Regions from separate parts of the Homo sapiens genome. Here region 1 is linked to region 2. A link means that fine-mapping ties the variant in region 2 to the expression of a gene that starts in the linked region. Tissue or cell type: testis. Region 2 holds a variant in brackets; the other region holds the start of a gene. All regions are shown on one strand. Distances are from middle to middle.

Evidence for each region. PIP is the estimated chance that this variant, and not a neighbour inherited with it, causes the effect.
Region 1: LMNTD1 starts here. The variant in region 2 is fine-mapped to the expression of LMNTD1 in testis (GTEx, PIP 0.94).

The regions. Positions count from the first base shown.
Region 1 is chr12:25,550,630-25,556,021 of GRCh38, reverse strand. LMNTD1 (lamin tail domain containing 1) reads left to right here and starts at 2,739. Exons shown (of 10, transcript NM_001145728.2): 1 at 2,739-2,953; 2 at 3,033-3,151. The coding sequence starts at 3,063.
Region 2 is chr12:25,510,356-25,515,747 of GRCh38, reverse strand. The region is part of intron 8 of LMNTD1 (lamin tail domain containing 1); the gene reads left to right. Among named protein-coding and RNA genes, the nearest start is that of LMNTD1, 40 kb to the left of the region's middle. The variant T/C (reference allele first, on the strand shown) is at 2,649.

The DNA of each region.
Region 1 (5,392 bases), 40 kb before region 2:
CAGCCTGGATGACACAGCGACATCCATCTCAAAAAAAAAAAAAAAAAAAAAAAAAAGATTATTGCACCTCATGCACCTCTGCTTCTTCCTTTCAGTTCTTGCTGACCCTCTCCTTCCTGAGCAGACACAGCCATGTTGATGACACCATTAACATTTGAGTCTGTGCATCCCAAACTGAGGCTTCTATTTTAGTCTTTTTGCTATGGAGAACTTAGATATTTGCAGTCAAAAATAATCATAATCTATAATGAATCTCCATGTAACTATTACTCAGCTTTAATAATTACAAGTCATGGCCCAACTTTTTCATCTACATTCTCATCTGCTTCCTACTGTCTGTATTCATTAGAAACAGAGGACGTCATATCATTTTATCTATAAATGTTTTAGTATGTATCACTAAAAGATAAGAACCCTTTTCAAAAAACATAATCATGACACCATATCACACCTAAAATATTTACCAGTTATTCCTTAATATCATTAAGTACCATGTGCTTAAGTTTCTACTGTCTTATAAATTTCTACAGTTTGCTTGAATTAGGATATGTTATATCCACAAATTACAAAAAGTGTCTTTTAAATTTCTTAGTTGATTAGCTAATGTGCTCTTCTGTTTCCTGTATTACATGTAAAGCAGAGGATTCATCAGATTCAGGTTGATTTTGTTGCTGCTGATGGTATTATTGCTACTGTTATTCTCTGTCCAATAAGTTGTATCAACCACATGAATACTACCAAGTTGTATTGCTATTGGTGATGTAATTTTTTCCAAACTGATAACTCTTGGAAACGTCTGAACAAATCAATATAGAGTCTTTCCGGAATTTAAACAATAAATAGTTACATCCTAAAGACTTTGGTATATACTAAAACTGCAAAAATATTTTGTATTTATATGACATATAGAGCTAGGCTTTAGGTTCATATAATTCTAATCTTTTTTTTTTTTTTTTAATGACGGAGACTGGTTCTGTCACCCAAGCTGGAATGCAGTGGCACGATCTCAGCTCACTGCAACTCCACATCCCCGGTTCAAGCGATTCTCCTGCCTTAGCCTCCAGAGTAGCTGGGATTACAGGCACCCGCCACCACACCCAGCTGATTTTTGTATTTTTTTAGTAGAGACGGGGTTTCATCATGTTGGCCAGACTGGTCTTGAACTCCTGACCTCAAGTAATTCACTCCCTTTGGCCTCCCAAAGTGCTGGGATTACAGGTGGGAACCACTGTGCCTGGCCAGATAATTGTAATCTATTTTTCACCTGCATGAATGCCTAGAAAGGCACGTGTCATGTGGGAACACTATTTACTAAGTAGGATTATCTGCCACATTGTGGAAAGTCTAGCATCTCTGGGTTCTGTCTACCAAATGCCACTAATACCCGACCCGAATCTTTAATGACTACTATCAACATCCTCTTACATTTACAAAATGCTCTCTATGGTTCACTTTGGCCCCTGTTGAAAACCACTAAATTAGTTTAAGCAACAACAAAAGAGGAAATTGGTTTTCATTGCATATATACAGTAATTTAAGAAAAGGAAATAAGAAAAATGTCTACTATGGGGAATGAGTATTGAAACACTCACAACTTCAAAGCCTTCAAAAGTTTTTCTCAGCTGACAGAATTTTATTTCTCCAAAATATGTTGGAAAATATGAGCAGGCTCTCTGATAAAACCAATGAGGTCATAACGACTTTATGCTAATATATGCAGTTCAAGTAGAGAAATTTTTAACAGCTAGAAAGCCATCCAGACTGGTACAGGTAGGGAGACTGGGAGAGTGACAAGAAATGACAAGCCCATTTTTAATTCTTTACTAAGCGTAAGTAAAAATTTATAAACCTTCTGATGCTATATTTACATAATTGGCCCATAATGTTCATAAGGAATTGTGCTTCATCTCTGAGAGGGAGGAAATACGGTCAAACGTTTACTTCCTTTTAACTTACCTTATTACGTGTTACACGTCTTGACTTTTTCTTTTTGGCTTTTTAAGACAGTTACTTTATTGTCTTTAAAAATCATTTTCAAATCTATATTAGAAGATATTTTAGTATTATTTCTGAAAGCAGGTATTGTTTATTCATGGTACCTAGCCAGTTTTTAAGAAATAGTAGAATCTTATTAACTATTTTTAATAAGCTTACTCATCCAGTAATCATCATTTATATATCTTATTACTGTATATAATCATGTACTTTCATAGTTATTAATTTTATTGCCATACTATCATTATCATGAAACATTAAGTGTGAGTGTTTTACACAGAGGAGAAACTGAATTAAGTGATTTCTTCTAAATCATACTGCTGGCATAACTAGGAGAAGAATTTAGGTGTTCTGGCTTTGATTTTATGATTTCTACCAATAGACTTCTTTTTGCATTGAAGTTTTATGGTTTCTATTCTTGCTGCCTAGCTGTTTCCATGTGCTCAAAGTATTTGTCCAGAGAGAGAGAAAGAAAAAAAAGAAGAAAAGAGTTGTGATTAATTTCCCCAGTATGTACATACTGGCCTTGACTCTTAGAAATACAAAACAAGATATCAATAATTTTGGTGGCAAAGTCTAGTGGAAGATATGGCTTTCCTAAGAGCAAATTACTTTATTTAATGTCTGCAAACTGCAAAGAAGGTACAGCATCAACATAGGAATTGTTCAGAAACTGGAACTTGGTTACTATGGAGACATTACCTCATAGTTCTAAGAGGCAGTGTTGGCCAGAAGCAACAACTGTAGTCATAAAGGTCTCTTTGCCAAGTTACTGCCCTCTCAAGCTGCTTCCAGTGAATGCTACACACCTGCACCATGGTTTGTCCGACATCCTTAGCCAAGATCAGGATTGGCTATGTTGGTACTTACATATCCTCATGAGAATTGTGGTTCTGGTACTAGTTTGGTAAAGAAATTATTAAACCTAGCTGATGCTTGAAGGTAGTTGGATTAACAGGTGAGGTCACTTTGAAAAGAAAAATCTGCCTTGAACCTCAGCCATATTCGTCATCTGATGTCATGATCTGCTTTCCTAGGAAAGAAAAGAGACTTCTTTTCTAGCCAAGATGAAAGATACACAAGACATTCAGGAAGCTTCGAAGGCAATGCAGAATAAAGTCCATGAGCAGGAAGATAAGAATGAGAAACAAAAACAGTGAGCATGCATAGATGCGATGGAAGCAGAGTTAGAGCTGAGTTATAGAGGAGGAATGATGGCATGCTTGACCTCTTTTGTTTCAATACTCTTATGAACCAGTTAGAACTAGAATATATCTCACAAATTTTCTAGAAATAATGGACTGTAGCATACAACTACTTCCACAACTACTGTTTTAGAAGGTTCTAGTCCTTGAGAAGTATAAAAATCCACCTGGACAGATCTCCATAGTATAAGACCTAGCTGAGATTCCAGCCAAAGTTCCGTTTTTTTTTTTTTTTTTTTTCAGACAGAGTGCAGTGGCGCGATCTTGGCTCACTGTAAGCTCCGCCTCCCGGTTTCACGCCATTCTCTTGCCTCAGCCTCTCGGAGTAGCTAGGACTACAGGCGCCCGCCACCACGCCCGGCTAATTTTTTGTATTTTTAGTAGAGACGAGGTTTCACCGTGGTCTTGATCTCCTGACCTCGTGATCTGCCCGCGTCGGCCTCCCAAAGTGCTGGGATTACAAGCGTGAGCCACCGCGCCTGGCCTCCAAAGTTCCCATTTAATATGTTAAGTCAATTTACAGAAATAGTTTCTTTCTAGAACTATTTTACAGAACTGGGGACAAAAAAATTACCAGAATATTGGTTTTGGAAATGTCCGTAAGAATGTTATATAAAATTATAATCCCTATTTTTACATTTAATATAAATCATTCATCAACTAAAGCATTACCATTGGTTTTCCAATGTTTTCTTTAAAATTGACTTATTGAGTATACATAATTTAAAGCTATTGTTACTTTGGACCTACAAGTCCTATGTTTATTGTTCAGTCCAAGTCCATTTTTAAATATTTGTTCTTAGAGGTCCTCTGAGAAATGATTGTCGTCAATATTATCAATGCAGCGTCTCCCAAAGTAACATTGAAATGCTAGACTTGAGCTTTTGTAACTGCCCCTGTTTTAATGTTAATCAATTACGGAGGGAGTGAGATACCAAGAAGGGGCTTAGAAAATTACTTATGCTTAAGGGAAAGTTAACTAACCACTGAGAAAAATCTCTCATCTTCCAAAAGAAGACTAATAGGTAGGCAAGTGGAAGGTTCAGGTGATGGGCTGTATCACACGAGTTTGTTCCTGAAATGTCTCAGCTCTTTCAAAGATGTGTGCAGCCATTAGAAATTTCTTATTCGGCCAGGCATAGTGGCTCATGCCTGTAATTCCAGCAATTTGGGAGGCCAAGGCAAAAGAATCACTTGAGGCCAGGAGTATTAGAGACAGCCCGGGCAACATAGCAACACCACATGTCTACAAAATTTTTTTCAAAATTAGCAGGCATAGTGCCATGTGCCTGTAGTCTCAGCTACTTGGGAGGCTGAGGCGGGAGGATCACTTGAACCCAGGAGTTGGTGGTTGCAGTAAACTATGATTGTACCACTGTACTCCAGCCTGGATGACAGAGAGAGACCCTGTCTCATAAAAAAAGAAAAGAAAAGAAAAAAATTTCTTATTCACCTACCAAAATAAGAACACCCTATAGCTCCAGGACAGGTTTCTGTGATTGCAAAGATTTTGTTAAGCCTTCTTGGGAGTCTTCTGTGGAATTAAATTTATTTTAAAGTGCTATTGTTTTACTAGAGGAAAAAAATTGAGATCTTATAAAATGAACATGCTGAAAAGAATAGCCAGTCTGTTATGAAGCCCAGATGTAAGGAATGTTGAAAGAGAAAAGCATTTCTCTGCATTTCTCTGCTGTTGTAGTCAATGTCAGGGAGAAGTCGTGTCTTACAATCCTGTCTCATGTTGAACACAGATGAAATATCTGTAATCTGACAGTTTACCTCTAAAGTCTCCTTCCCACTACCTCTACGGTCATACTCAATAGTGTATCTTCATAGGTTAGAGCTTTTCTGACAAATATGAATGCTTGGAGTGTCAGCAGGATGTTAAGTGCACATGCTTCTTAAGCACTGGGCTAGTAATCATGACATTTTCAAAGCCAATGCCATTTAATTATTTTAAAAATTTGCCTGAGATGTCTGTGTCTGCTGAGAGGCACATTAAAGAGCAGTCTAGTTTTGAATACAAAACTCTCCAGGTATAAGATTTCTGATAAAGGAACTTTCACATTGTAGAACAAAATGATTGTGAATACCTCTTGGTAAACAGAGATATTGAGGGTGACAGCAGCAAGATGGCAGAGTAGGAAACTCCAGGCCCTCATTCTCCTGTAAGAACCTGAAAGAACAACAAG
Region 2 (5,392 bases):
AAATAGGATAATTTTAAAGAAACATCTACACACTGTATTTCCAACTCATGCTGAACACATTTTGTTTTTAAAAACATGTTAAAATACAGCAAGTATAATGTTAAAAGCACCCATATATTAATCATGCAGAATGAATGCATGTTAATATTTTATTGTATTGTTTCACATTACCAAAAAGAAAAATTCATAAATTTGAAGTTCCCTTTAATTGTATTTGCAGTTCTGATCTGATATTGGAATAAATCATTCTGGTTCTCATTTTATACTTTGTTTACATGCATATGGATCCATATATATATATTTAAAATAATTTGTGTATTTTTAATTTACATAAATGGCATCATGCTAAATGTGCCAGCTCTTTTTGACTTACTGTAATTTGGGGGATTTAACTATAGTAATATAGAGAGACCTAATTCAGTCACTTTAACCATTATGTAGTATTTTATTATACAAATTTACTGTATCTTGTTTATTCCCCTATTAATGTTTTTCTCGTCAATAATATAGATGAAAAAATTTTTAAATATTTTAATTTTCTTTTTTACTTAAAAAAAAATTTACCAAGTCTTTGAATGCATCCAAGAAAATGTTATGTCTACGGCAATGATTATCCTTGTGCAAGTCTACTTGTGCATACATACAAAGGTTCCTTTGGGGTTCATACCTAAACTTTTAAAATCTTCTAAAATTCCTACATGTACTTATTCAGTTGTATGGTACCTGTATCTTCAACTTTATTAGATTTTGCTCAACTGCTCTAGGAAGAATTTTGCTAATTTATACTCCCACCAACATAGTAAAATATTTCCCATTCCCCTTATTCTCACCTAACTTTATATTGCCAGAATCTTAAATTATGTGCCAATCTGATGGACATTAACTAGTAACTCATTATCTTAATGTGAAGTTCTTCTTTAATAGTGGTGTTGTGCATATTTTCATATGTAAAAAAATAAAAAATCTTTCCCTATCTCATAATAATTCTCATAATAATAAAGTTATGTGCTTATATTTATTAATTTTTGGGGATTATCCGTTCCCTCAAGCATTTATCCTCTGAGTTACAAACAATCCAATTACACCCTTCAAGTTAGTTTAAAATGTACAATTAAGTTATTATTGACTGTAGTCACCCTATTGTACTATCAAATAGTAGGTCTTATTCATTCTTTCTTTTTTTTTTTTGTATCCATTAACCATCCTTACCTCCCTGCCCTGCAAATCCCCCACTACCCTTCCCAGCCTCTGGCAACCATCCTTCTACTCTGTATGTCCATGAGTTCAATTGTTTTACTTTTTAGATCCTACAAATAAGTGAGAACATTGTGTGTTTATATTTATTTATGATAGTTTTTCCAATTTGCTTTTTGTATATGTCTTTAATATATTTGAAGTTGTTTTTATGTATGGTATGAAATAGTGACCTCAGATTTCTTCGATATGGAAAACCATTTGTCTCAACACCAGAGAGTGTGTCCATCACGTGCACACTGATTTCTAGTACCACCTCCCTCCTATGCTTGGGTCTGGGTCTGTGCTCCCTAGACTGTTCTATTGATCTATCACTGTGCCAATAACACTGTTCCTGTTGTTATTGGTACGTAATCATTCTTTTGCTCTCTTCTTGCTCTTCCCTTTCAGTGTGATTTGGCTTTTCTTAAACTTTTTACTCCTCTTTACAAGAATCATTTTTATCAAGTTTCACATAGAAAAACCATCTTGTTGGTAGTGTGATTAAAATGGTAAGAATTTTAAAGGTCATGTTGAGAGTTGATACCTTTATGATACTGAGTCATGGTATATGAAATCAATTGTCAGTTCATTCAGATTTCTTTCATGGCTTTCATTGATATTTTCTCATTTTTTTCCATAAAATTCTTGTATATCGTTTGTAGATTTCTCACCCAGGCAGGTGTATTGATTTGTTATTATTGTTGCTACTGCTTTTGAAAATGCTATCTCTTTCTATAACTTTTTTTCACTTTTTTAAAGAAGAGGAAAATTATCTTTGTATATTGCTTTTGTTTCAACAAATTTTCTGAACTTTTTAGTTTTGATAGCTTGTAGTCTCATGGGTTTGTTTGCTTGTTTGTTTGCTTGCTTGTTTTTGAAGCAGAGTCTGACTCTCTCACTGTAGCTGGAGTGCAGTAGCACGGTATCAGCTCACTGCAACTTTTGCTTCCCTAGTTCCAGTGATTCTCGTGCCTCAGCCTCCCGAGTAGCTGAAATCACAGGTGTACGCCACCACACCCAGCTAATTTTTGTATTTTTAGTACAGACAGGGCTTTGCCATGTTGGCCAGGCTGGTCTCAAATTCCTGACCTCAAGTGTTGGCCCTCCAAAGTGCTGGGATTACAGGCATGAGCCACTGTGCCTGGCCACATGGGTTGTTTTTTCCCCTCTGTATTGTGTAATTGTGTACAAATGACATCCTTTCTTTCCAATGCTTATAAATTTATATCGTGTTCTTGCATTATTGCATTGGCAATAATGCGAGATAGTTCCAATGAGCATGGCCAACTTTGTCTTATTCATATTTTTAATCGGGATGCATCTTAGTGGAAGATGTGCTGAAAGTCACCACTGAGCATTCATTTTGCTGAGAATTTGTTCCTGTGGGAATTAGCACAAATTTGGGGGAATGT[T/C]CTGAATTCTACAATGTAGGCGGTTAGGAATTTTATTCAGTATAATACAGATCAAATGCACAGGGCCTCTAGCTAAGTTTGTGGCTATGGATTATTAAAGGATTAAATACGATGTGACACTCATCCTGCCCCTCGGTGTTCACAACAAACTAAAATGCCAGAAACCACTCATGGGCAATAAATGTTTCTGATGTTTTGGGAGTCATGAGAAGAGGTTTCATTAAAGCCCCCCCCCATAAAAAAAAAATTGTGAGTAGATTCTCCTAAGAATCCTTTCAACTGGCCCCAAGAGGGATTACCCTTGGCCCCTTACCCCATGCACTACCAAAGCTCTTGCCATAATTGCCCTCTTTGTCTCTTTCAGAAGCTCTCACTCCCATAGCTTCAGGAGTCACCATACCTTCTACCAAAAGCCTGGTAAGGTATCCTCCCCCTATCCTAAGAGGAATTTGACAGCAGATGTCAAGAGGAAACATTTTCACCTCCTTATAAATTCCACTATTATTTCGACTTCACAAATAAGAATTTAGTAAGTGATGGAGCTAGAAAATTTTCCGCTTTTGAATCTTTTTTTAATGTTATAAAATACGTAAAGAACAAAAAAGACACTTCTCTACCCACTTCCCCAAATGAAAAATATTAATACATTGTCGTATTTGCATTAATTATTTTTTAAAATAAGCATTACATGTCAAACGTCTCCTAGATTTCTTTTTCTAGTCCTAGTCCTATTCCCCTCCTTTGCTCCCTAAAGCAACATCCATGAACTAGGGATATTTTTTCTTTTTGCTATTGTCTCGTTTTTTGCTGCTTAATGCAAATCTAACTTCAAATTCAAACATTTTTCCACTGTCAACTGTTGAAGCTCAAAAAACTCAGCTGTAGCTGCAAATATGTATTTCAAACCTATATAACCAAAGCAAATGTTGCAAAAGACAATACTGATTTTTCTAAGTATGACAGATTCTGATATTTCCTACTCTTTTATTTCATTTTAAAATACTTGCCATGACCTTCTAAATTTATTTCATAACCAATAGAGAGGGAAAGATTTGCTGTTTAAGAAACATTGCTTTAGAAATATTTATGAAAAGACGAGAGCAATGGAAAAGGCTCAGGGGAGATAGCATTGGAACTAAGGTATTGAAGGTCGAATAGGAGTTATTCAGGTTGAAAAGAGGGGGGGCAAAGCATTCTGAGTAGAAGAAACAGTACATATTAAAAGCACAAGGAGGCAAGAATAAACTTTGGGTTCAGTGAACAGACAGAAATTGTATCCGACTGAAATATAAGTAGAAATTGAGGTGTTAGTCCAGAAAGTTTGGTAAGGACTAGATGTTAGAGGTATTTGTACACCACCATGTTAGAGTTTCAACTGTATTATGAAAATACTGACGAGGCAACAATTGGATTTTAAATAGGTGTTATAGTTAATAGTTAATAGTTATAGTTAATAGTCTCATATAGTTAGATCTGTGTTTAAAAGAGAATTTTAAAAGCAATGTGAAAAATGAAATGGAGTAGGAAAGATTCCAAACTCTTTATCTCCAGCCCAACATTCTATTCTGAACTTCTGATTTATGAGGCTAATTACTTATAATCTCTAGTTGGATGCCCTACAAGTGTCTCATTCTCAGAATGTTCAGAACAACTCATCATTGTCTTTCCTTCAAAGTCTGTCATTCCACTGATTTTCCTTATATAAGTGAATGCCATTCAGAAACCTGAGGTATCCTAACGGTCTTTCTCTACTCCTTTTCCTTCCTCAACTCCCAAGTATAATCAATCTTGTTTAGGTATCCTAAACATTTCTTCTCTTACTTAAAAATCTTCATTTTCTCCCCATTGCCCTCATGGTGGAGTCCAAATCCATAAAATTGTTTAAGTATCTTTGAGCCAGGGCTGTCCTATCTCATCACACATTCTCCTTCTTGCATTCTATGCTTTAATCATCTTGAAGTTCTTTCAGTTCTTCAAACACACCCTGACTACCTCCAGGCCTTCACACATTCTTTCACCCCTCCTCTTTTCATGGATAATTCTTTTTCATCCTTAAAGTTTCACTTATATGTCACTATCTCCAAAGAACCCCTCTCTGGTCCCCACCAAATGAGTTTTTTGCTCCTAATATGTGTTCTCAGTAATATCTTACACTCACCAAGCAAAGCATTTATTGCACTGTATTGTAAATTCTCTTTTATCTCTGGACTATAAGTGTTAAATTGCTTTTATTTTGCTTGTCTTTTTGTCACTTGCACCAAACTCAGTACATGACACATAGGAGTTAATATGTGTATACTGAAGGACAGACTGAAAAAGAGACACCGAAGATTTTTAAATGACATCTCATAGAGTTAGACTGGTATTTTAATGAGAATTTTAGAAGGAATATAAAAAATAAAATGGAATACAAAATATCCCCAAATCTAGAAAAAAATAAGCAGTAAGGAAGCAAAGGATAAGGAAAGAAAGGAACAACAAAAAAAGATTAGAGAGAAAGACTGAGCACAAGTAAGTCTAGTAGAGTTGTAATTTGAATCCCAAAAGGAGATGATGGAGAGGTTGGGACAGAAACAATATTTAAATAAATAATGGCAAAAATTCTCAAAAACTGATACAAAGACATCAAGCCATAGAATTAAGAATAATAATAAATCCCAAGCAGCATAAATACAAAGGAAACCACATCTATGTACATCATAATAAAACTTCAGAAAACAAAATATGGAAGTCATAAGATAATG